Linked DNA regions of Homo sapiens: region 2 is linked to region 1. The links come from fine-mapping of genetic effects on gene expression. A gene starts in region 1. The other region holds a variant in brackets. All regions are shown on one strand. Distances are between the middles of the regions. Region 1 holds the start of ULK2 (unc-51 like autophagy activating kinase 2). Region 2 overlaps ULK2 (unc-51 like autophagy activating kinase 2).

What was found. PIP is the estimated chance that this variant, and not a neighbour inherited with it, causes the effect. A credible set is the group of variants that fine-mapping cannot tell apart.
Region 2: its variant is the best candidate, but not a certain one, in a credible set for the expression of ULK2 in whole blood (INTERVAL, PIP 0.65).

Annotation. Positions count from the first base shown.
Region 1 is chr17:19,864,317-19,881,125 of GRCh38, forward strand. ULK2 (unc-51 like autophagy activating kinase 2) reads right to left here and starts at 3,620. Exons shown (of 27, transcript NM_014683.4): 1 at 3,012-3,620; 2 at 1,420-1,512; 3 at 487-528. The coding sequence starts at 3,101. RefSeq lists an enhancer at 2,737-3,245 and silencers at 2,824-3,003, 3,084-3,673.
Region 2 is chr17:19,821,903-19,829,902 of GRCh38, forward strand. ULK2 (unc-51 like autophagy activating kinase 2) reads right to left here. Exons shown (of 27, transcript NM_014683.4): 11 at 4,237-4,284; 12 at 3,192-3,280. Among named protein-coding and RNA genes, the nearest start is that of TRG-CCC3-1, 35 kb to the right of the region's middle. The variant C/A (reference allele first, on the strand shown) is at 4,408.

The DNA.
Region 1 (16,809 bases):
CACACAAAATTAGCTGGGCATGGTGGTGCACACCTATAGTCCTAGCTACTCGGGAGGCTGAGGCAGGAGAATCGCTTAAACCCGGGAGGTAGCAGTTGCAGTGAGCCGAGATCAAGCCACTGCACTGCAGCCCAAGAGACAGAGTGAGACTCCATCAAAAAAAAAAAAAGCTCTATTTTTAATTGTCCTTTCAACATTCATCAGAGAATGCTAGATCTGGTATCAACAGTCCTCTACTTCACCTAAAACAATGCTACACCTATAGTGTATTATCAATTGTTAATAAACTTACTCATGCAGCAAATTCTTTCAGCCTATTACTCTGTTCTGTTTTAAACAATTTCTTAATTCAGAAACATGTAACTCAAGCTATGCATCTTTTCAACAAGAATTAAGGTCATTTTTATTTCTATTAAGAGTCACTTAAATCTGTATGAAATTAAAAAAAATTTATTTTAATTTTTAAAAATTTTCAAAATAAGGTACCTGAACATCATAGAGTGCTACAATATTTTCATGCTGAAGTTCCTATTAAGAAAATTGAGAATGAAAAATATGTAAGTATTCTAATGACTTTACTATATTTTAATATGTAAATAAAATTAAAGTATACACATACACTTCTAGTATTATACTTATATTAAGACTATAAAAATTCAATTAAAGAATAAGAAATGTGCCTGATCAAACAAAAAGCACATTATCTCACTGAAAGAAAATATGATTTTTAGCTCAAAGAGCTACAATTCTTAAAAAAGAGCTCTCCACAGGAAGCAGTTTTGAGGAAATCGGGTGTTAAATGAGGGTTCCACGCTTGTATTAGTTTGGAAAACACCAGGTTAAGTACTTTGAAACAAGTTTCTTCATTGTAGAATTTTTCAGACTTTCTTTAATGAGCCATAGGCTTTGTGACTCTCCAAGAAGTATTTAGTAAATGGGGTTTTCCAAACGTACTCAACCATCTTCTCAAACCATCCCACTTAGATAACACTGGTTGTGAGTGATCTAAAAAGGCCACCTCCAAGGAATATAACTTTCTTCAATTTAAAGAAAGACCCCAAGCACCCCTACTCCCCCCAAAAAACTTAGTAGTAACATGAAAGGGGACAACAGGAGAGGTAAAAACAATGTACAAGATGGGTCTGCCTGGCCCTCTTCTCAAACAACAACACAGTCACTAGGAAAAAGAGAAATGATGAGAAGCTAAACTCAGTCTTCACAGAATCCCTCTGAGCTTTGGTTCTTAAAAATAGCTTCCGAGTACTCAATGTTTTAAAAAAGTGAGCATGCAAAAAGGAGAGCAACAGTTGAAAATTCTCAAACTTGGACCCAACTACCAAAATTGAAAAGGATGGCAGCATGTATTCATTTAAATTAAGTTTTAACCTTATATGAATACTACTACATAAAGTAACATACCTTTAAGATTTTAATTTCCTTTCCAAGCAGTATTTGTGATTTTGACAAGTTCTTTTTATTAATACTTTTAATAGCTACCTCCCAATCAGTTTTCTGAAAAGGAAAAACAGTGTTACTCCTAGATACCATTCCACATAAATAACAGAAAAAAATTTACAAGCGCGAAGGTGTTTTTGGCAAATAAATGTACGGCATTGGGGAAAAATGGAATTATTTTCAATAATTGGAAAGTGATTTCATAAATTATAGTGCAATATGCCAAGATCCTACAACACAACTTCTAAAAATAACAAATATGAAGTCCACATGGTAACTAACATTAAATGAAAAAAGAACAGTTCACAACCACTTCAAAGTTATGGACAAATGTAGAAATAAACTTGGAAGGTGATACAGTTAATTGAAAAGTTATTTGTTAGCTTGGAAGGATTACACCGTGCTTGAGTTCTAAATTATTTTCCTAATAAATGAAAAGTAGGCCGGGAGCCGTGGCTCACACCTGTAATCCCAGCACTTTGGGAGGCTGAGGCGGGCAGATCGGATCACCTGAGGTCAGGAGTTCAAGACCACACTGGCCAACGTGGTGAAACCCCATCTCTACTAAAAATACAAAAAAAAAAAAATTAGGCGGGCGTGGTGGCGGGCACCTGTAATCCCAGCTACTCAGGAGGCTGAGGCAGGAGAATCGCTTGAGCCCGGGAGGCAGCGGTTGCAGTGAGCGGAGATCTCGCCACGGCACTCCAGCCTCGGCGACAAAGCGAGACTCTGTCTCAAAAATAAATAAATAAATAAATAAGAAAAGTAGCATTACTTCATCCGATAAGCAACAAAGTCAGCCCACTTTTAACACGCCCCTTGGGCAACAATCAGAACTGCCACACCCTTTAAGATTATTTCCACTCCCGATATGCCTTTCCAAATTCTTTAGATTCTAAAACCTCGTGTAACTGTACTTGCGAAACAGCAAAGGCTTAAAACAATTTTTTTAAGGCTTAAAGGTGATTTCATGTTCAAGGTGATTGAAAATGAATTGTCCAACCACCTTTCTCACCCGGAGCTCGTCTATCTGACTCCGGGGGGGAAAACGGTACGGGGGCTCTTCGGGGTGCAGGGGACCAGTGCTGGGAAAGGTGACACCTCCCAGGCTGCGAAAGCCTGAGGCTAATGGGACATCCGCCCATTTTCCGCTGGGTCTGTAATTATCAACCTCAAAAGTGACCAGCCCTGGGCACGGGGAAAAAAACCAAAGGTCCATTCACGCCCAACCCTCGAGTCTGCACGGTGCAGTACCGTCTATTTTGGGTCCAGGGTAACCTGGGTGCAAACGCTCCTGCGGGCGGACCGCGGGGTGGGCCCCGGGCACACAGGAGGATCAGCAGCAGCCGGTCGGTAGGCGGAGCGCTGCCAGAGGCTTGGGCCTCACAACAACCCTCACAGGACCAAAACAAACGGCGAGACGGGCTGCGCGCACAATAGCATACCCGGGCGGCTAGCCGAGTCGGGGGTCTCGGCTCGCGGCTGCGCCAAGTTTCAGAACCACCTAGCCCCGTGCCTGCCGCCCGGGGCCCGGCCTCGCCCCGGCCGGCGCTCACCTGGCGGTGCCGCCCCCGGAAGACCACGGCGAAGGCCCCGTGTCCCACGAGATCCCTCTTGCTGTACTCGAAGTCACCCACCACCTCCATGGCCGCGCCCCCGGGGCACACAGCGGACGGGCGGGCGGCGCAGTGCGGCGCAGGTATCAGCACCGCGGCTCCGCGGGCCCGGAGCGCGCCAGCGTGCGGCGGGTCTGGGGCAGCCGCAGCCCCGGGCCCGGGCGGACTCTCATGCCGAGAGACCGGAGCGGAAACTGGGGAAGCTGCCGCGCGGAGCCAGGGTCAGCGAGGCCCGGCCCGGCCCCTGCCGCTCATGGCCCGGCCTGCCGCCGGCCGCTGGCTGTCTGGCGAAGCGGCCTCGGCGCTGCCGGGCCAGGGGTGCCGTCACCGTCACTGTGCGCGCCCAGAGCCGCACACGCGCTCTGAGGCAGTGAGGGGCCCGGTACTCTCCATCCCCAGCTCGTCGGGCCTCCTCGGCCCTCCCCGCTCGGGGCGCTGCTGCGACGGCGACGGCCGCCGCCCTAGAACCCGCACCGCCGCGGCCCCGCGCTTCCCCGCCTCGCGGCGGCGCCCAACGCCCTCGCGCGCGCTACCCGCTCCCGCGCGACTGGCTGCCCTCCGCGACGTCCGCGCGCCTTGAAGGCCGCAGCGCCAGCCGGCTCCCTCCGCCGGGGAAAGGAGTGCGGCCAGGGCTTGGCGCCCGCAGCTGGGCAGATCCTCGGCCGCTCCTGAGGCGGGGACGAAGGGCGCGACCCGCTGCGGCCACAGCGGGTTACGGGCTGCGGGCTCCGTTCTGGGCCTGGGGAGCAGATTCGAGCCGACCACGCCCCGGGCTCCAGGCCGCTGGGAGGCGGACTTCAGAGAAGCGGGTCTTGAACCCCAGCTGCAGGCAGGACGGGATTATCTGCGCAGGGTAGACCCCCAGATTCCTGCCAGAGCAAAGGAGCAACTGCTACTCCAGGCTTTGCCCGCGCTCTGGAAAACCAGAGTTCACGCTGCCAAACTGCCAGCCTTCGGACGCCTCTCGGGGTTTACTCGCTTAGGATCCCTAGAGGGACGGTGACAGGCGGGATTCTGCACCTTTTGGGGGTCCCTTGACTGCGAGAAGCTGGTGACAGCTCAGGGCCCTCTTCGCAGAGAATCGTTTCTGCACACCGACTCAGAATCGCACACGTTTTCAAGGTTCTCCTGGGAGCTCCTAGTGTCAGGCTAGTTTGACCTCGGGCTTACTTCACATGGCCGAAGGGAGCTTTCTTTTCTACCTGATTGTTAAAGCTGTCCAAGTGACAAGGAACAGATTGTCAGGTTTCCCGCAAAGAAGTGTCTTATGAAACCATTTAATAAACAATATGCTTGAAACTACCATGGAATACGCAGGCTCCACACTTGAGTGTGTGTTCGGTTGTATAGGGTATGTGCTTTTGGGGTCTGTCACCACCTCGACTGCCACTGCCTGTCCCTGCAAGCTGATCTCTGAACCATGACAGAGTCAGCTCCAGGATTCTGAGAGAACGCTCCTTCCTCACACGCTCAAAACGTAGGGCCTTGAGTTTCTGCTTCTGCTACTGTGCACGCTTACGTTATCCTGTCCTTACTTACATCTGGCCCAGGTGGTTGTGTTAGACACTGAAAATCTGGAGCCTTCAAAAGTTGACAGCAACTTAAGCAAGTTTGCACATACACCCAAAAATGGATGGAGATGATTCCTTACCTCACTGAAAGATTCTCTACAGTCTATTTTTTTGTTTACTTTTTTTTTTTTTTTTTTTTTTGAGACAGAATCTTACTCTGTCACCCAGGCTGGAGTGCGGTAGCACAATCTTGGTTCACTGCAACCTCTGCCTCCCAAGTGCAAGTGATTCTGCTGCCTGAGCCTCCCAAGCAGCTAGAATTACAGGCACGCACCACCACGCCCAGCTAATTTTTGTATCTTAGTAGAGATGGGGTTTCACCATGTTGGCCAGGCTGGTCTCAAACTCCCAACTTCAAGGGATCAGCCTGTCTCGGCCTCTCAAAGTGCTGGGATTACAGGCGTGAGCCACCACGCCCGGCCTGTTTTTTGTTTTGAGACAGAGTCTTGCTCTGTTGCCCAGGCTGGAGTGCAATGGCATGATCTCGGCCCACTGCAGCCTCCGCCTCCTGGGTTCAAGTGATTCTCCTGCCTCAGCCTCCCAAGTATCTGGGATTGCAGACCTGCACCACCATGCCCGGCTAATTTTTTTTTTTTTAGTAGAGGTGGGGTTTCACCATGTTGGCTAGGCTGGTCTCAAAACTCCCAACTTCAAGCGATCCGCCCACTTCGGCCTCCCAAAGTGCTGGGATTATAGGTGTGAGCCACCTCACCTAGCCACATGAAGGTTTTTTGTTTGTTTGTTTGTTTGTTTTGAGACGGAGTCTTGCTCTGTCGCCCAGACTGGAGTGCAGTGGCACGATCTCAGCTCACTGCAAGCTCTGCCTCCCGGGTTCACGCCATTCTCCTGCCTCAGCCTCCGGAGTAACTGGGACTACAGGCACCCGCCACCACGCCCGGTTAATTTTTTGTATGTTTTTAGTAGAGACGGGGTTTCACCGTGTTAGCCAGGACAGTCTCCATCTCCTGACCTCGTGATCCGCCCACCTCGGCCTACCAAAGTGCTGGGATTACAGGCGTGAGCCACTGCGCCCGGCCACATGAAGGTATTTTTCAGAAACCTCCAATAGGCCCTTCGTTTGGACATGCGTGTCCTGTATTCACAGGCCAAACATGGGCCCCATGGACATATCCATTTGAAAAGCAAAATGTGCAGGATTTCTGACCTCAAGAGTCAGAAAAGAAGTGGGGGCAGGAGGCAGGGGGTGCTTTGCTAAAAAATGTTTAGTTAGGACTATGTTGGTAGCAAATAGCAAACGTCAAATGTGATAAAGTGAAAAATAAAGAATGTAGATAAAGATACAGGTGTGCTTCTCAGAGTTCAAAGTTGGGCTTCAAAAGCAAACTACCCGCAGAACCAGGATCTCAAAGAGAACTGCCTTCCGTCTGTGCCCCTGCTTTGTTCTCTTGCCTGAGATCTCCTACATGGTGGCAATGGCAGCCCCAGTCTCCAAACCAAATTTTTTTTTTTTTTGAGACGAAGTCTTGCTCTGTCGCCCAGGGTGGAGTACAGTGTTACGATCTCGGCTCACCGCAACCTCCGCCTTCCAGGTTCAAGCGATTCTCCTGCCTCAGCCTCCCAAGTAGCTGGGATTACAGTTGCGTGCCACTGCACCTAGCTAAAATTTTTTTTGCTTTTTTAGTAGAGGCGGGGTTTCACCATGTTGGCCAGGCTGATCTTGAACCCCTGACCTTAGGTAACCCGCCTGCCTCGGCCTCCCAAAGTGCTAAGATTACAGGCGTGAGCCACTGGGCCCAGCCACCAAATTCTTAAGGAGGGGATTCTGATCAACCTAACTTCAGCTGGGTGCTGGGCCCTGAACAATCATCGGAAGCCAGGAATGGGACTGAGGAAGGCAGGATCATGTAACTATGGCTGCCCCCAACACAAGCCTGTGGGTGTTCTGAGTCCCCAGAAGCAGGGGCCACATAGGCACCCCAGGAAGTGTTCACCCTAGGTCAAATTTAGGCTTCATTTGAGAATGGAGGCCAGGGCAGATTTCTAGTTTACCTCTAAAATCACTGGAAATTGCCAATTTGATTCATGTTCATTGTTCTTAATTTGTCCTGTGTGTGCATATGCATGTGTGTCTAAACATGCTTAACTGTTGAAATGTTTCAATACCAGTTAGTAAATAGAAAAACAGTAACTGCAATGAGAGGTAAAATTAATTACTAATATAGGCCAGGCACAGGGGCTCACGCCTATAATCCCAGCACTTTGGGAGACTGAGGTGGGTGGATCACCTGAGGTCAGGAGTTCCAGACCAGCCTGGCCAACATGGTGAAACCCCATCTCTACTAAAAGTACAAAAAGTAGCCGAGCGTGGTGGTGTGTGCCTGTAATCCCAGCTACTCGGGAGGCTAAGGCAGGAGAATCACTTGAACCTAGGAGGCGGAGGTTGCAGTGAACCAAGATTGCACCATTGCACTCCAGCTTGGATGAGAGGAGCAAAAATCCATCTCACACACATGCACACACACACACACACACACACACACACACACACACACTAGCCAGGTGTGGTGACATTCGCCTGTAATCCTAGCTACTCGGGAGGCTGAGGCAGGAAAGTTGCTTGAACCCGGGAGGCAGAGGTTGTGGTGAACCGGGATCGCACCACTGCACTCCAGCCTAGGTGACAAATGAGACACTGTCTTAAAAAAAAATTAATTACTAATATAAATTCTAATATAAACTGTTTAGTTTATCATCCAGTGCTATAGAAATGTTCTGATGATAAAAGGTATCCTGTGAAAATAAATGTGAGAAATATTCTGCTGGGCAGGGAGGCATTCCAAGATGCAGGAGAATAGCCAGTTTATTATTATCTTCAAATTACATCATTGCTATTCCTTCTATTTTGGTTCTATTGTTTCTACTTTGATGACATTGCTGATGCTTTGAAATTCTTGTGAATAGTTAGGGTGCAGTGCTTTGATATTTATAAATGCAAGAATTTACAATAAAATACGAAAAATAAGCACAAAAAAGGAAGCAATAACAAATTTTTAGTATGTTTTTTAAAGTTTTAAAAAATACCATAATGACAAATCTTCTGAATAATAAATGTAAATTTTCTGAAATGATATCAGTAACAAAGTTCAGCCTAGGAATATTTTGATGCAATGCAAAAAACAAACAAACAAACAAAAACAGCAGGGAGCATCTTTTTATATTGTGCAAAAATCAGTATAAAATTTGGCCAGGCGCGGTGGCTCACGCCTGCAATCCCAGCACTTTGAGAGGCCGAGGCGGGCAGATCACAAGGTCAGGAGATCAAGACCATCCTGGCTAACATGGTGAAACCCCATCTCTACTAAAAATACAAAAAACTAGCTGGGCATGGTGGTGGGCGCCTGTAGTCTCAGCTACTCCAGAGGCTGAGGTAGGAGAATGGCGTGGACCCGGGAGGCAGAGCTTGCAGTGAGCTGAGATCATGCCACTGCACTCCAGCCTGGGCAACACAGCGAGACTCTGTCTCAAAAAAAAAAAAATCAGTATAAAATTTGCATCTCAGGTCGGGCTCAGTGGCTCATGCCTGTAATCCCAGCACTTTGAGAGGCTGAGGCAGGCAGATCACGAGGTCAGGAGATCGAGACCATCCTGGCTAGCACGGTGAAACCTAGTCTCTACTAAAAATACAAAAAATTAGCTGGGCGTGGTGGCGGGCACCTGCAGTCCCAGCTGCTAGGGAGGCTGAGGCAGGAGAATGGCGTGAACCTGGGAGGCGGAGCTTGCAGTGAGCCAAGATCGCGCCACTGTACTCCAGCCTGAGCGACAGAGTGAGACTCCATCTCAAAAAAAAAAAAAAAAAAAAAAAAATTTGCATTTCAGGCCAGGCACAGTGGCCCAAGACTGTAACTCCAGCATTTTAGGAGAATGAGGCAGGCAGATTGCTTGAGCTCAGGAGTTCAAGACCAGTCTGGGCAACATAGGAAAACCTCTTCTCTACAAAAAATAAAACAATTGACCAGGCCGGGCACGGTGGCTCACACCTGTAATCCCAGCATTTTGGGATTACAGGCATTTTGGGATCATGGCTGAAAATGCTCTATTCTTTCTAAACCGTACAGTAGATTCTGTTGACATTTTGAAGTGCTTCCAGATAGCTGAACAGGTGGAGGTTCCTGGAGGGTGCTGCGCCTGGAGAGGACATAGAAGCTCCATGTCCCTTCCCACATGATCACTTGAGGTCAGGAGTTTGAGATCAGCCTTGCCAACATGGTGAAACCAGAAGAAGACGACTCTAACATTGCTTGGGGTTGCAAAGTTTTCTGGAAGAAAGTCATGTTGGAGAAAAGTCTTGAAAGATGTATCAGAGCCTGCCAAGTAGGAAAGGTGAGTGAAAGGAGCGTGTTCAAAATGTGGCATTGTGGGAACCAGTGGGCTGTTTGGCATAGCAAGAATGTAAGGTACATGGTTGGATGGGTTGGATAGAATAGTGGGAGATGGGGCTGGGAAGTTAGGTTGGGACCTTATCCAGGAAGGTGCTAGAGGCCCCGCCAACTCCTACTTCCAGCCTGTCTGATAAGGTCATGTCCAAAAGGACTATGAAAGGGGATCGAGAAGAAGCTGGGTTCCCCAATTCTGTTCAGCACACTGTTGTCCACAGCTCTTACTTCCTCATCTGGGCACTGGTGAGCATGTGTCTTAGGTGAACAGATGCACAGGTCAAGGCATGTGGGAAGGGGCATGGAGCTTCTATGTCCTCTCCAGGCACAGCACCCTCCAGGAACCTCCCCTGTTCCGCTATCTGGAAGCACTTCAAAAATGTCAGCAGAATCTACTGTATGGTTTAGAAAGAATAGAGCATTTTCAGCCATGATGGATTTACTAGAACTTCAAAAAAGAATAAGACTGGCCAGGCACAGTGGCTCATGCCTATAATCCCAGCACTTTGGGAGGCCGAGGTGGGTGGATCACTTGAGATCGGGAGTTTGAGACCAGCCTGGCCAACATGATGAAACCCTGTCTCTGCTGAAAATACAAAAATTAGCCAGGTGTGGTGGCACACACCTGTAATCTCAGCTACTCAGGAGGCTGAGGGGGGAGAATCACTTGAACTCAGGATGCAGAGGTTGTAGTGAGCCAAGATGGCACCATTGCACTCCAGCCTGGGCGACACAGCGAGACTTGGTCTCAGAAAAAAAAAAAAAAAAAAGAAAGAAAAAAGGAATGAGACCAATGTAGATGTGCCATTGCAATCTAGATTTGAGCTCCCTCTTACGAAGCAAAGACCCACTGAAATGACAAAACAACTGTCCTTGGTTGCGTTCTCTGCAAAGAGATGCTGACCTGGACTTGAGGTACAGATGATTATTAGGGATTAACACCAGGGGGAGAAAAATGGGGGCTGGAAGCAGAACGGGACAGAAGAGGAAGAACTGTGATGCAGGCTCGACCATGCCTAACCTCCTCAGCAGAAAGCTCTGGAGCAGAACATCAGAGTTGTCCCGCATTGAGCCAAAATGTCACGCCTCACTCAGCAACCTGGTGGGGCCACCCAGGCCCCTGACAGGGCGGTGAGGCTGCTCTGCTGCTGAGGCCAGGAGGAGTTGACTGCTGGACGTTTACTGTGCTACCACAGCCTCGCAGCATGTTCGTCCTCCAGGGAAGGTCTGGGCAGCATGTCCCCAAGGCTACTGCAACAACTTTCGGGAACACTTGGAAGTCAAGCCGTAATTTTCTACCATTATCAATGCCACATCTATTATTTCATATTAAAATATTTTAATAATGTACTTAAATGCAAATTTTAAGACTTTAAAGATTATTTAGTGTGTCCTGTGAATTATGTGGAACTGGCAGAAAAAATATCTGAAAGCATCTATTAAATTTTTTTTTTCCTGTGACTCGGCCCGGCGTGTAATCACAGCACTTGGGAGGCTGAGGTGGGTGGATCACCTGAGACCAGGAGTTCAAGACCAGCCTGACCAACATAGTGAAGCCCTATCTCTACTAAAAATACAAAAATTAGCTGGGTGTGGTAGCGAATGCCTGTAATCCCATCTACTTGGGAGGCTGAGGTGGGAGAATCACTTGAACCCGGTAGGCGGAGGTTACAGTCAGCCGAAATCACCCCACTGCACTTCAGCCTGGGAGAAAGAGCAAGACTCAGTCTCAAAAAAAAAAAAGGAATCCATCCTGATTTAGAAAGTTTAATAAAAACATAAAAACTGTAACATGGGAGTGGCTAAATAATAAATAAATGAAACTTTTTAAGGGTCTGGTTTTAATAAATGATTTATAATAGAAAATTCAATTTTTTCTCTCTTTTTTTTTTCCAGGAGGCTGAGGCATGAGAATCGTTTGAACCCAGGAGACAGAGGGCCACCAGGCCCAGCTGATTTTTTTTTTGTCTTTCTAGTAGAGACGGCAGTTTCGCCATGTTGGCCAGGCTGGTCTCAAACTTCTGACCTCAGGTGATCCACCCACCTTGGCCTCCCACAGTACTGGGATTACAGGCATGAGGCACTGTGCCCGGCCAAAAATTTCTCTCTCTTTTTTTTAAATCAGGTTATCACTCTGTTACCCAGGCCGGAGGGCAGTGAGTGGTACAATCACAGCTCACTGCAGTCTTGACCTCCTGAGCTCAAGCAATCCTCCCACCTTGGGTAGCTGGAAGCACAGACATGAGCCGCTGTGCTGGGCTACTTTAAAAAATTTTTTTAGAGATGGGGTCTCACTTGTTGCCCAGGCTGGTCTCAAACTTCTGGGCTCAAGGGATACTCCTGCCTCAAATTGCTGAGCTTACAGGTGTGAGCCACCACACCTGGCCAATTTCTGTTTTTAATTTCTGATACATTATGCATATGTCAATAGGTCTAGCCTACATAAACCAAAGCTCTTTGGGATTCTCAAAACATTTTCAGGGTGTGAAGGGTTTCTGAGATGAAAGGTTTGAGAACTGCTCCACTAGTCCAAGCTCAAGCTAGTGCCGTAAGAGGCCAGGCTTCATCTACACTGTGCTGTTTGCAGTAAAGTAGGTTCAGTTCCAAATTGTGCCACATCCTGGCTGTAGGACCTTAGGCTTTCCTTCACCTCTCTGGGCCTCTGTGCCATCTGTAGAAATGGAGATGATGATGTTTAGTGACTGCTGGTGGCAGACAGAGATAGAGACAAGTTCACTGACTTGTGAAACATTGGTGGGACAGTCAGGAGGTCCTGATGATGTATTATGAAGATGAGAGTAAAGAGTTGGTGGCCGGCGGCAGTGGCTCACTCCTGTAATCCCAGCACTTTGGGAGGCCAAGGCGGATGCATCACCTGAGGTCAGGAGTTCAAGATCAGCCTGGCCAACATGGTGAAACCCCGTCTCTACTAAAAATACCAAAATTACCTGGGCGTGGTGGCACGCGCCTGTAATCCCAGCTACTTAGGAGACTGAGGCAGGAGAATCGGTTGAACCCGGGAGGCAGAGGTTGCAGGAGCCGAGACCGTGCCATTGCACTCCAGTCTGGGCAACAAAAGGGAAACTCTGTCTCAAAAATAAATAAATAGATAAAAATAAAGCATTGATTTTTCTGATTTATTACAAAGACAGACCTATCTCTTGATATTACTCCCAAGGCTATTCTTTCCGTGCAGCCCCTGCAGCCCTCAGTTCCTCCTTGGAGGAGTCTATAATCAGGAGGACTGATTTCTGGCTGTTGTGTAATTGCTAACACTGGGAAACTAATATTTCCCTTTTTCTCCCTACCGTGGTGAGAATTGCTGAGCTGATATCTTCCCCCAACTCAAGAGGAAGTGAACGCCCTGCCCTGCGCAGGGGGCCCGAAGCCATCTCCTCTGCCTCTCGGGGATGTGGTAGGGATCTTGCCCGAGGTCAACCACACGGCACACACATGCCCACATGCCACGCCTCTCAGGGACGAAGCTCTTGGAGGCTGCCAGCCTTCTTCAAAGGAAGGAAGAAGCAAAACCCACCAGCAACAAGAACTAAAACTGTGTGTGTGATCTCAGTGCAGACATAGCAGAGACATCAGTAGAACCCTGAGACCAGTAGAACCCACAGCCCACAGCGCTGTGCCTTGATAGCGAGGGGGTCACCCTGAGAAGCTGCAGCCCATGTCCTCCCTAAGGCTTCACAACGGGTTGCCTGCTCTAGAGAAACCACCTCAGTTGGGATGCAGAACTTGGCCTGGCAGGTCCATGAACCTGATTTCATGAGCACCCAGAGATCAGGGTGAGAGTCTCTCTCAAGAGGAGTTCACATGAATCACAATCCTAGAGGCTGTGACATATATCCCAGAAGCCGAATGTATTGATTTGTGAGGGAAAGTTTCAGCTGTTAAAAACTAAACCAGAAAAAGCATTTGACAAAATCCAACATTCATTTCTGATTAAAGGTGAACTTCTCCCAACTTTGACATCTGTCCAAACCCATAGTACGTCTATCACCAAGAGAAAACACTAATGTAAAAACCCTCCTGTAAACGGTGGACTTCAGGTGATTAGAGTGTGCCAGTGTAGCCTGATGGATTGTGACCAATGCAGCACTCTGATGGGGGATGTTGACAGTGGGGAAGACTGTGCATGCAGTGGGGGCAGGGAGTGTGTGGGAACTTGCTGTACTTTCTGCTCAATTTTGCTGTGAACCTAAAACTGCTTTAAAAAGTAAAGTCCTAAAAAATGCTCAGCACCACTAATTATCAGCAAAATGCACATTAAAACCACAATGAGATATCATCTCACACCAGTCAGAATGGCTATTATTAAACGGACAAAAAATAACAGATGTTGGTGAGGCTGCAGAGAGAAGGGAACTCTTATATGCCGTTGGTAGGAATGTAAATTAGTACAGCCTCTGTGGAAAACGATGTGAAGATCTCTCACAAACTGAAAATAGAACCATAATGTCATTCAATCCAGCAGTCCCTCTATGGGTATCTACCCAAACGAAAAGAAATTAGTGTATCAAAGGGATACTTGCACTTGTATGTTTATCGCAGCATTATTCACAATAGCAAAGATACAAAATCAACCTAAGTGTCCATCAACAGGTGAATGAATAAAGAAAGTGTGGTGCATATACACAATGGAATATCATTCAGCCATTAGAAGAATGAAATTATTGGCCGGGTGCGGTGGCTCACGCCTGTAATCCCAACACTTTGGGAGGCTGAGGAGGGCGGATCATGAGGTCAGGAGTTCGAGACCAGCCTGACCAACATGGTGAAACCTCATCTTTACTAAAAATACAAGAACAATTCACCAGGCATGGTGGTGCATGCCTGTAATCCCAGCTACTCAGGAGACTGAGGCAGGAGAATCACTTGAACCCAGGAGGCAGAGGTTGCCGTGAGCAAAGATCGAGCCACTGCACTCCAGCTTGGGTGACAGAGGGAGACTCCGTCTCAAAAAAAAAAAAATGAAATTATGTTTTTGGCAGCATCATGGGTAGAAATGGAGGTCAGTCATTATCTTAAGTGAAACAAGACAGGTACAGAAAATAAAATACTGCATGTTCTCACTCATAAGTGGGTACTAAGAAATGTGTGCACATGGACGTAGAGTAGAATGCTAGACAATGGAGACTCAGAAGGGTGAGGAGCTGCGAGGGGGAGGGGTGGATGATAAGAAATTAGTTAAAGGGTGCAATGTACCTGATGGGTGCACTAAAAGCCCTGACTTGACCACTGGGGAATCTATGCATGCAACAAAATTGCACGTGTACCCAATACATTTGTACAAATCGAAATAAAAGTAACTAAAAAGATAAAAATAAAGTCTTTAAAAGGAAAAGAGTAACCCAGATTATGTTGTTCTTTGTTAAAAACCCTACAAAGTCCTCTCATCCAATCAAAGGAAAGTCCTTAACAATAACCTGCAAGACCCTTCACCATCTGGCCTGTTTCCCATGTGTCCACATCTCATGTCACCTTCCCCCAGTTTGCCTGGCCTCCTGCTTCAGGGCTCCTAAACATGCTGTTTCTTCCTCTGGGAATGCTCTCACTCTATCTGCAAGGATCACGCCCTCACTTCCTTCAGGTCTTTACTGAGATGTCACCTGCTCAGTGAGGCTATCCCTGGCCTCCTTTTGTCAAGTTGTATTCCTCCCTCTACAATTCCTATCTCCCTTTCCAGGTTTCATTTTCTCCTTCGTACCCATCACCAGCTAACATCCTACCTAGTTTGTTTGTTTGATGGTCAGCTTCCTCCACTAGAGAATACATTTCTTGAGAACAGGGGTTTTGTCAGTTATTTCTATTATTATTTTAATATATATATTAAAATTGTAAATATGAATATAAAATACATATATTATATATATGTATATGTATTTCAGAGAGAGGGTCTCACTCTGTTGCCCAGGCTCTGAACTCAAGTGATCCTACTGCCTTCTCCTCCCAAAGGGTGCCAGGATTACAGGCTCAAGCCACTGCACCTGGCTACTTTGTCAATTTTGTTCACTCCTAAATACTTGTTGAATGAATGAATAGATGAACTGTCTGGTGGGCTAAAATGCTGGTAACAGTAAGTAGCTCCTCACATACCCTCAGCTCTGCAAAGCCACCTGGGAAGCCATAGATTCAGGGGTACTGAGTAAGCTGGAATCTGAGCCCAGGGTGTCTGCTGACCTCGGGCAATGCCGTTGAAGGCATCACCCTTGGCAAGGCAATACTCTCTCTCCCCATATTGTCTCCTTGACTCTGCCTTTTCATTCTTCCAGGGCTCTCAGCCCCTTTCTGATTAGTACACTCTTTACTCCCCCACCTCCCTCTTTTCCCCCTTGCTTCCTTTCATTTTTTTCTTCCTTTCTTTCGAAAGGGTCCCACTCTGTTGCCCAGGCTAGAGTACAGTGGTGTGATCATAGCTCACTGCAGCCTCCAACTGCTAGGCTCAAGCAATCCTCCCACCTCAGCCTCCCAAAACACTGGAATGACAGGTGTGCGACACCGCATCTGACCAGCACACTCTTTCTTTCTTTCTTTTTTTTGAGACAGAGTCTCACTGTCTTGCCCAGGCTGGAGTGCGCTGGCATGATATTGGCTCACTGCAACCTCTGCCTCCTGGGTTCAAGCAATTCTCCCGCCTCAGCCTCCCGAGTAACTAGGATTACAGGCATGTGCCACCACACCCAGCTAATTTTTGTATTTTTAGCAGAGACGGGGTTTTGCCATGTTGGCCAGGCTGGTCTTGAACCCCTGACCACCTGTCTCGGGCTCCCAAGGTGCTAAGATTATAGGCGTGAGCCACCGTGCCTGGGCCACACTCTTTATTAAGATATGCTCAATTTAAAAATCTTGCTGCTAGCTAAGCACAGTGGCTCACGCCTGTAATCCCAGCACTTTGGGAGGCTGAGGTGGGTGGATTGCTTGAGGCCAGGAGTTCAAAACCAGCCTGGCCAACATGGTGAAACCCCATCTCTACTAAAAATACAAAAAATTAGCTGAGCATGGTGGTGCACATCTGTAATCTCAGCTACTCGGGAGGCTGAGGCACGAGAATAGCTTGAATCTGGGAGGCAGAGATTGCAGTGAGCTGTGATCACACCACTGCACTCCAGCCTGAGTGACAGAGCAAGACTCTGCCTCAACAAAAAAGAAAAAAAAAAAGCTCTTGCTGACTTGGCATTAATATTATTTCTCTAAGACATCTCACATAACCTCTGCTGTGAGTTATTTTTTGCTGATCTTGAACTCTGACTGTCAGAGCCAACCTCCTATCCACGTAGCTCTCCTGGGAAACATCTATTATCCATGCCTCCATCATGATAATCTCAGTGTCTGACCTAGCACCATTAAAAAAATTTAATGGCTCACAGCTGTAATCCCAGCACTTTGGGAGGCTGAAGTGGGTGGATCACCGGTGAGGTCAGGAGTTCGAGACCAGCCTGACCAACATGGTGAAACCCTGTCTCTACTAAATACAAAAAATTAGCTGGGAGTGGTGATGCATGCCTGTAATACCAGCTACTTGGGAGGCTGAGGCAGAAGAATCTCTTGAACCTGGGAGGTGGAGGTTGCAGTGAGCCAAGATTGTCCAGCCTGGACAATAAGAGCAAAACTCCATCTCGGAAAAAAAAAAAATTTTGGCCAGGCGCGGTGGCTCACGTCTGTAATCCCAGCACTTTGGGAGAGCGAGGCAGTTGGATCACATAAGGTCAGGAGTTCCAGACCAGCCTGACCAATATGGTGAAACCCTGTCTCTACTAAAAATAC
Region 2 (8,000 bases), 47 kb before region 1:
CTCAAACTCCTGGGCTCAAGCAATCCTCCCACCTTGGCCTTCCAAAGTGCTGGGATTACAGGCGTGAGCAAGCACACCCAGCTGACCTTATCTTTTTTTTTTTTTTCTTTGAGAGAAAGTCACAAAGTCTTGCTCTGCAGTGGCACAATCTCAGCTCACTGCAATCTCCACCTGCTGGGTTCAAGTGATTCTCCCACCTCAGCCTCCCAAGTAGCTGGGATTACAGGCGCACGCCACCACACCTGGCTAATTTTTGTATTTTTAGTAGAGACAGGTTTTCACCATGTTGGCCAGGCAGGTCTCAAACTCCTAATCTCAAGCGATCCACCCACCTTGGTCTCCCAAGGTGCTGGATTACAGGCGTGAGCCACTGAGCCTGGCCCAACCTTACTTTTTAAAGAACTCTAATGAATAAGACATAAAAAGGATATGTTTATGCCAGTGACTTATTTTATTTTTTATTTTATTTTTTTTTTTGAGATAGAGTCTCGCTCTGTTACCTACGCTGGAGTGCAGTGGCATGATCTTGGCTCACTGCAGCCTCTGCCTCCTGGGTTCAAGTGATTCTACTGCCTCAGCCTCCTGAGTATCTGGGATTACAGGTGCACGCCGCCACGCCCAGCCAATTTTTGTTATTTGAAAAAACACCAAGACAGGGTTTTGGCATGTTGGCCAGGCTGGTCTCAAACTCCTGACCTCAAGTGGTCCACCCGCCTCAGACTTCCAAAGTGCTGGGATTATAGGCATGAACCACCACACCCGGCCCGTTTACTGTTTTTTGTTTGGTTTGTTTTTTTTTATTGAGATGGAGTCTCGCTCTGTCGCTCAGGCTGGAGTGCAGTTGAGCGATCTTAGCTCACTGCAACCTCCGCCTCCCGGGTTCAAGCGATTCTCCTGCCTCAGCCTCTCGAGTAGGTGGGACTACAGGCGCGTGCCACCATGCCCAGCTAATTTTTTGTATTTTCAGTAGAGATGGGGTTTCACCGTGTTAGCCAGGACGGTCTTGATATCCCGGTCTCATGATCTGGCCACCTCAGCCTCCCAAAGTGCTAGGATTACAGGCGTGAGTCACCACACCCAGCCGGATTTTTTTTTTTTTTTTTAATAGAGGCAGGTTCTTACTATGTTGCCCAGTCTGGCCTTGAACTCCTGGGATCAAGCAATCCTCCCATTTCAGCCTCCCTTACAGCTGAGTCTACAGTCATGCCCAGGCACGCCTGGCTATTTTTTTTTTTTTTTTTTTAGTAGAGATGGGTGGTCTTGATATGTTGCCCACGCTGGTCTTGAACTCCTGGAATCAAACAATATTCCTGCCTCAGAAAAAATAGGTTTGTCCACCAGAGTTTTTAACATCTAAAAAAGACTTTCTCTTTCTCCTGCCTCTCTTCACTCCTCCAGTTAGTTCTACATTCAGCTACTCCTTGGCAGCCCTAGCCTGGCTCCTATTTTGTCCTCCTCTTTCAACCAACAAAAACCCCAAAATGCTCTCTCCAGTCAAAGAAAATTTCCAGTTCAACGTCCTCCCTACTGGCCTCTCTCATCCCTCAGTCACACTATCACCCCACAGGCTCCTTTATGTTTGCTCTCCCAAAATTAGATTCTTCCCTGTTGTTCTTTCCTCTAGCACAAGCTTTGCTTTTCATATTACATTGTGTCAAATATATGGTTCATAATAATAGCCACAATTTATTGAGACTTTGCCATGGCTAGGCACTTCCCACATCTTACTACCAGGACCCTGCAAGCAAAGGTTAAACAAGCCTATGGTCCAGATGAGGACACCATGGCCCACCTCTCTAACTGACCGGCCCAAAGTCACTGAGTGGGCAAGCAGCAGGGCTAGGATTGGTGCCAGCGTGTCTGGCTCTTAATTTTTTTAGTTCACCAGAACATAACATAAGTCTTATTAACATAATCTGCTTTATCTATTTGGTATGAATTTGCGGGGCTGTGTAAGAAAGGTTTGCTGCCAGTTTTGAGACTTGTCTGTTTGCAACAGGCTACATCTGCATCTGCTTTACCTAACAGTTGCCACCCCTTGCGTTATATACTATGTGTCAGACCCTGCATGCAATAAGTGCTTACACTCACTTATCCCTGAAGAACCCTACGAGGTAGGTAAATTACACTTACTTGACATACAAAAAAAAGGTGTCCTATATGACAGGTAAGGTACATGGAGGCTGCAAGCCCCATCCACTTAAACCTCTGAGTTGTCTCACTTTTATGGCTCCCCTATCTTTCTGCCAGCGGCATTCAAGAAATTGATGTCTGGGGCAGGGTGCCGTGGCTCACACTTTGGGAGGCCAAGGCGGGCAGATCACTTGAGTTCAGGAGTTTCAGACCAGCCTGGCCAACATAGTGAAACCCCGTCTCTACAAAAGATACAAAAAATTAGCTGGGTGTGGTGGTGTGCGCCTACAGTCCCAGCTACTTGGGAGGCTGAGGCTGGGAGAATCGCTTAAACCCAGGAGGCGGAGGTTGCAGTGAGCCAAGATGGAGCCACTAAACTCCAGCCTGGGCGACAGAGCGAAACTCCATCTCAAAAAAAAAAAAAAAAAAAAAAAAAAAAGCCTAAGAGAAGAGTGGAGTAGGAAGAAGTGACTAGAGTGACCAGAAGGCCTCAGGATTAGGAAGAAGTACTGAGATGGGAGGGAACACAGCCATGAAGAAAATGCCTTGGGAGCTTCAGGGAAAGGAAGAGGTTTGAGTAGAAGCCACCTTAAAGCGCCAGAAATCATGATTAAGAGAATCTAAGTCAGTGAAATCTGGCTCAGAGGTGACTCCTCCCTCAGTAGAAATTCCACATACAAAAAAAATCCAAGCTCATGTCTACGGCATTCAGATCAAATAAATATTTATTGCCTATCCACCTGTAATGGGTACTCTGTTTGCAAGTATCATCACCAAAACACCATAGGGTATAAGAAGGTGATAGTGCTATACTCACTGTTCAGAGGAAAATGGCCCAGAGAGGTGACATTTCTTTCTGGAGCTTACACAGTAACATATGGACAGAGGCCCGAATGCAGGTCCATTTGACCCAACTATCATGTTCTTTCCCCCAAATCTCAGCTACATTAGTAAACATTACACATAAAAAGAATATCCACAGTGTATGTGCATGCTCCATTTGAGAAAAGATGTAATAGCACTAACTCTGAAATTATTTTTAATAAACTGTAACTTACTGGTGGAGAAGCAAAACGACAAGATGGAGAGCTGCCACAGGAGCTTCCAGAGACAGAACCAGAATACATGGGCACTGGAACTGGGCAAGCTAGGGGAAGAAACACAAATGAACTACATCATTTTGTAGTGCAGTCACATGACCTGTATAACAGAAACACTTGCCAAAACTACTACACCTTTGTGTTCCCCCAAAATCTGCATTTACCTATTTATTACCACATCTGCTGATGAAACTAAAAATGCAGCAATTACTAAAACTATTTCAACTTCGTTTCAGAAGGAAAAATAGAACAGTTATTAAATAAACACAACCGTAGGTATCTAAGAAAATCAGGCTGGGAGCAGAGGCTCACTCCTATAATCCCAACACTTTGGGAGGCTGAGGCAGGAGGATCACTTGAGGTCAGGAGTTTGAGACCAGCCTGACCAACATGGTGAAACCTCGTCTCTACTAAAAATACAAAAATTAGCCAGGTGTGGTAGTGCCCGCCTGTAATCCCAGCTACTCCAGAGGCTGAGGCAGGAGAATCACTTGAAACCAGGAAGCAGAGGTTGTACCACTGCACTCCAGCCTGAGTGACAGAGCAAGACTCCGTTTAAAAAAAAAAGTAGCTGGGTGTGGTGGCTCACACCTGTAATTCCAGCACTTTGTGGGGCTGAGGCGGGTGGATCACCTGAGGTCCGGAGTTCGAGACCAGCCTGACCAACATGGAGAAACCCCATCTCTACTAAAAATACAAAATTAGCCGGGCATGGTGGCGCATGCCTGTAATCCCAGCTACTCCAGAGGCTGAGGCAGGAGAATGGCTTGAACCCGGGAGGTGGAGGTTGCTGTGAGCCGAGATCACGCCACTGCACTCCAGCCTGGGCAACAAGAGCGAAACTCCATCTCAAAAAAAAAAAAAAAAAATAAATAAATAAATAAATAAATTCAATGAAATTTTAGGAGTCACAATAAAAGATGAATTTTGTAGTAAAAATCATTAATTTTTCCTAAAGCTTGCATTCATTCTTTAAGTGAAAATACAAAAAATGGATACTCACATTTTTTTACTGGACCTTGCTCAAGAAAAGGATGGCTAAAAAATGCTTCTGTAACAAGAAATGAGAATGCAACCTTTAAAGAGACATTGACTAAACTATCAACCAGGTTATTTTTTCTCAACGTATTCAATATAATGTCTTTGAGATCAGAATTTAACTTCTTTATATAGG[C/A]TCCATTTCCTTTAAATGTAAAAGCGTATTTTTTATAAATCCTCTATAAAATAATTATTTTTATAATCATATAAAATAATGAATCAATAACAAATTTTAAATAATTACGAATTCTCAAAACATCTATCACCAGCACAACATACTCTGATGCTACTTACACAGACATGTTCTCTAACGTATGCCACCCTCCAGTGGACAGCCCCACAGGAGAACTGTGATCACCAGGCCCTTGTTAAGCACCCATGTGAACTACAGCTGTTAATTGTCCTAAGAGGAAATTGATACAGCTGATTTATACAACAAACTATCCTTCGCCCCTACAAGTATTCCTGATGCTGGTTTCACATTAAAAAGAGAAAAAACTGGCCGGGTGTGGTGGCTCACGCCCGTAAGCCCAGCACTTTGGGAGGCCGAGGCAGGCAGATCACCTAAGGTCAGGAGATTGAGACCATCCTGGCTAACACGGTGAAACCCTGTCTCTACTAAAGATACAAAAAATTAGCTGGGCATGGCGGCCGGCGCCTGTAGTCCCAGCTACTCGGGAGGCTGAGGCAGGAGAATGGCGTGAACCCGGGAGGCGGAGCTTGCAGTGAGCCGAGATCGCGCCACTGCACTCCAGCCTGGGTGACAGAGCGAGACTCCGTCTCAAAAAAAAAAAAAAAGAAACTACAAAAACAATACATTCAATAATTTTAAAACCATTCTCCATAATAGTTGTTTCACTATTGACCATAATTCTCATGGTTCAGAGCAACTCTCAGCTTAACTTCTCCCTAATAGGTATAAATATTTCCAACTACATGAACTTAATTTTAGTCCAACTTTACAAAACATTAAGAAAATAGGTATTCAGACCATTTCATCTTTTCCCCGACATGGAAACAATTACAGCTATCCTCTACTGAGTATTCAACATTCACTAAGACAATGAACTGGGTGCTTCACAAACCTTATCTGAGGAAGTATGTCCTCCTATGATGGGTAATAAAATTAAAAGCACACAAAGGCCATGTTTCTTGTCCAATGTCAAAGAGTTAGTAAGGTGAGGGACTAGAATTCAAATTCTAGTCCAACTTATTTAAATACCAATGTGGGTTTCCCTATTATACTATACATTAGCAAACCAAAATCCTGGAGTATATTTCCACAAATCTCTGTTAGTATTACAACTATTACTACAGGAAAAGTCAAACACTTTTTTCCCTAAAAACTACAAGATCAGGGTTAATTTGCTAAGTATTTTCATTAAACATGTCTTAATGATTTCTCTGGTCTGACATTTTCAAGTAGCTGTTTTTACCTAAGATAAGAATTAGGTTGGACCGGGCGTGGTGGCTCACGCCTATAATCCCAGCACTTTGGGAGGCAGAGGTAGGTAGATCACCTGAGGTCAGGAGTTTGAGACCAGCCTGACCAACATGGAGAAACCCCGTCTCTACTAAAAATACAAAATTAACAGGCATGGTGGCACATGCCTGTAATCCCAGCTACTCAGGAGGCTGAGGCAGGGGAATCGCTTGAACCCGGAAGGTGGAGGTTGCGGTGAGCCGAGAACCTGCCATTGCGCTCCAGCCTAGGCACCAAGGGCGAAACTCTGTCTCAAAAAAAAAAAAAAAGCAACTTCCAAAAACTTTAAGATAAACTGATGAGACCCACACAGAGTTACAGAATCAAACTTTCAAAAGACAGAGAGAATCTTGGAAGCAAGAGAGAAGCAACTTGTAATATACAGGGATCCTTAATAAGAATATCAGCCAATTTCCCATCAAAAATCTTGAGGCCAGAAGGCAGTGGGATATTATCTAAAGTGCTGAAAGAAAAAAAAGTTAACTGAGAATTCTACATTCCACAAAACTGTCCTTCAAAACTCAGGAAGAAATTAAGATATCCCCAGAAAAACAAAAGCTGAGGGAATTCATTACCACAAGACCTCCCCTATAAGAAATGCTAAAGAGAGTACTTCAGGTTGAAATGAAAAGAGCTAGACAGTAAAAAGCCACATGAAGACATGAAGATCTCCGGAAAAGATAAATGCACTGGCAATTTAAAATCCAATAGTACTGTAATTTTGGTTTGTAACTTCACTTTTTCACTTTCTACAGAGTTTAAAAGACAAATGCATTAAAATTATCATAAAGATATAATTTGTGATATCAACATAAAGGGGGTATAAAGCAATACAGAAGTAGAGTTTTTGTGTGCAACTAAAGTTAATATGAATTCAGTAACTTTAGATGTTATATGTAATCCGCAGGTAACCACAAGGAAAAATATACACAGAAGGAAATGAGAAAGGAATCAAAACACATTACTATAAAAAACAACACTAAAGAGAGCAGTAATGGGAGAAATGTGGGACAAAAAAGCTGTAAGACATAAAAATAGTAAAATGGTGAAAATCTTTCCTCATCAGTAATTACTTTAAATGTAAATAGATCTCCTTAGGCAGAGACTGGCAAAGTAGATTAAAAGGAAATAATCCAACTATAATCTGTAAACAGAACAGAGACTCCCTTTAGGCCATGTGAGGTGGCTCACGCCTCTAATCCCAGGCAGATCTCTTAAGCTCAGGAATTCAAGACCAGCCTGGGCAACATGGTGAAACCAAAAATACAAAAAAATTAGCTAGGCATGGTGCTGCACATCTGTGGTCCCAGCTGAAGTGAGAGGATCGCCTGAACTCGGGACACAGAGGTTGCAGTGAGCTGAGATTGTGCCACTGCACTCCAGCCTGGGTGAAAGTGTAAGACTCCATCTCAAAAAGAAAAGAAAAAAGAAAAAGAGACTCGCTTTAAATCTAAAGACACAAATATTTGAAAGCAAAATAATGGAAAAAGCTATTCCCAGGCAAATACTAAGCAAAAGAGAAGGGCAAAGTTGACTATCAGACAAAATAGAATTTGAATTGAAAACTGTTATAAAAGACAAAAAGTACGTTAAATAAGGCCAAGTACACTGGCTTAAGCCTGTAATCCTAGCACTTGGGAGGCCCAAGGTGGGTGGATCGTTTGAGTTCAAGAGTTCTAGATCAGCCTGGAAAAAATGGTGAAACCCTGTCTCCACAAAAAATACAAAAATTAGCCAGGTGTGGTAGCTTTGCACCTGTAGTCCCAGCTACTTGAGGGGCAGAGGTGAGAGGATCACTTGAGCCCAGGAGGCAGAGGTTTCAGTGAGCCAAGACTGCACCACCGCACTCCAGACTAGGTGACAGGATGAGACCCTGTCAAGGAAAAAAAAAAGGGGGGGGGCTGGGCACGGTAGCTCACGCCTGTAATCCCAGCACTTTAGGAGGCTGAGGAGGGTGGATCACAAGGTCAGGAGTTTGAGACCAGCCTGACCAACATGGTGAAATCCTGTCTCTACTAAAAATATAAAAATTAGCTGGGCATGGTGGCAGGCACCTGTAGTCCCAGCTACTTGGGAGGCTGAGGCAGGAGAATCGCTTGAACCTAGGAGGCGGAGGTTGTTGCAGTAAACCGAGATCGCGCCACTGCACTCCAGCCTGGGTGACAGAGCGAGACTCCATTTCAAAAAAAAAAAAAAAAAAGGTATTAAATAATGATAGAAGGGTCAATTAACCAAGAAAATTTAAG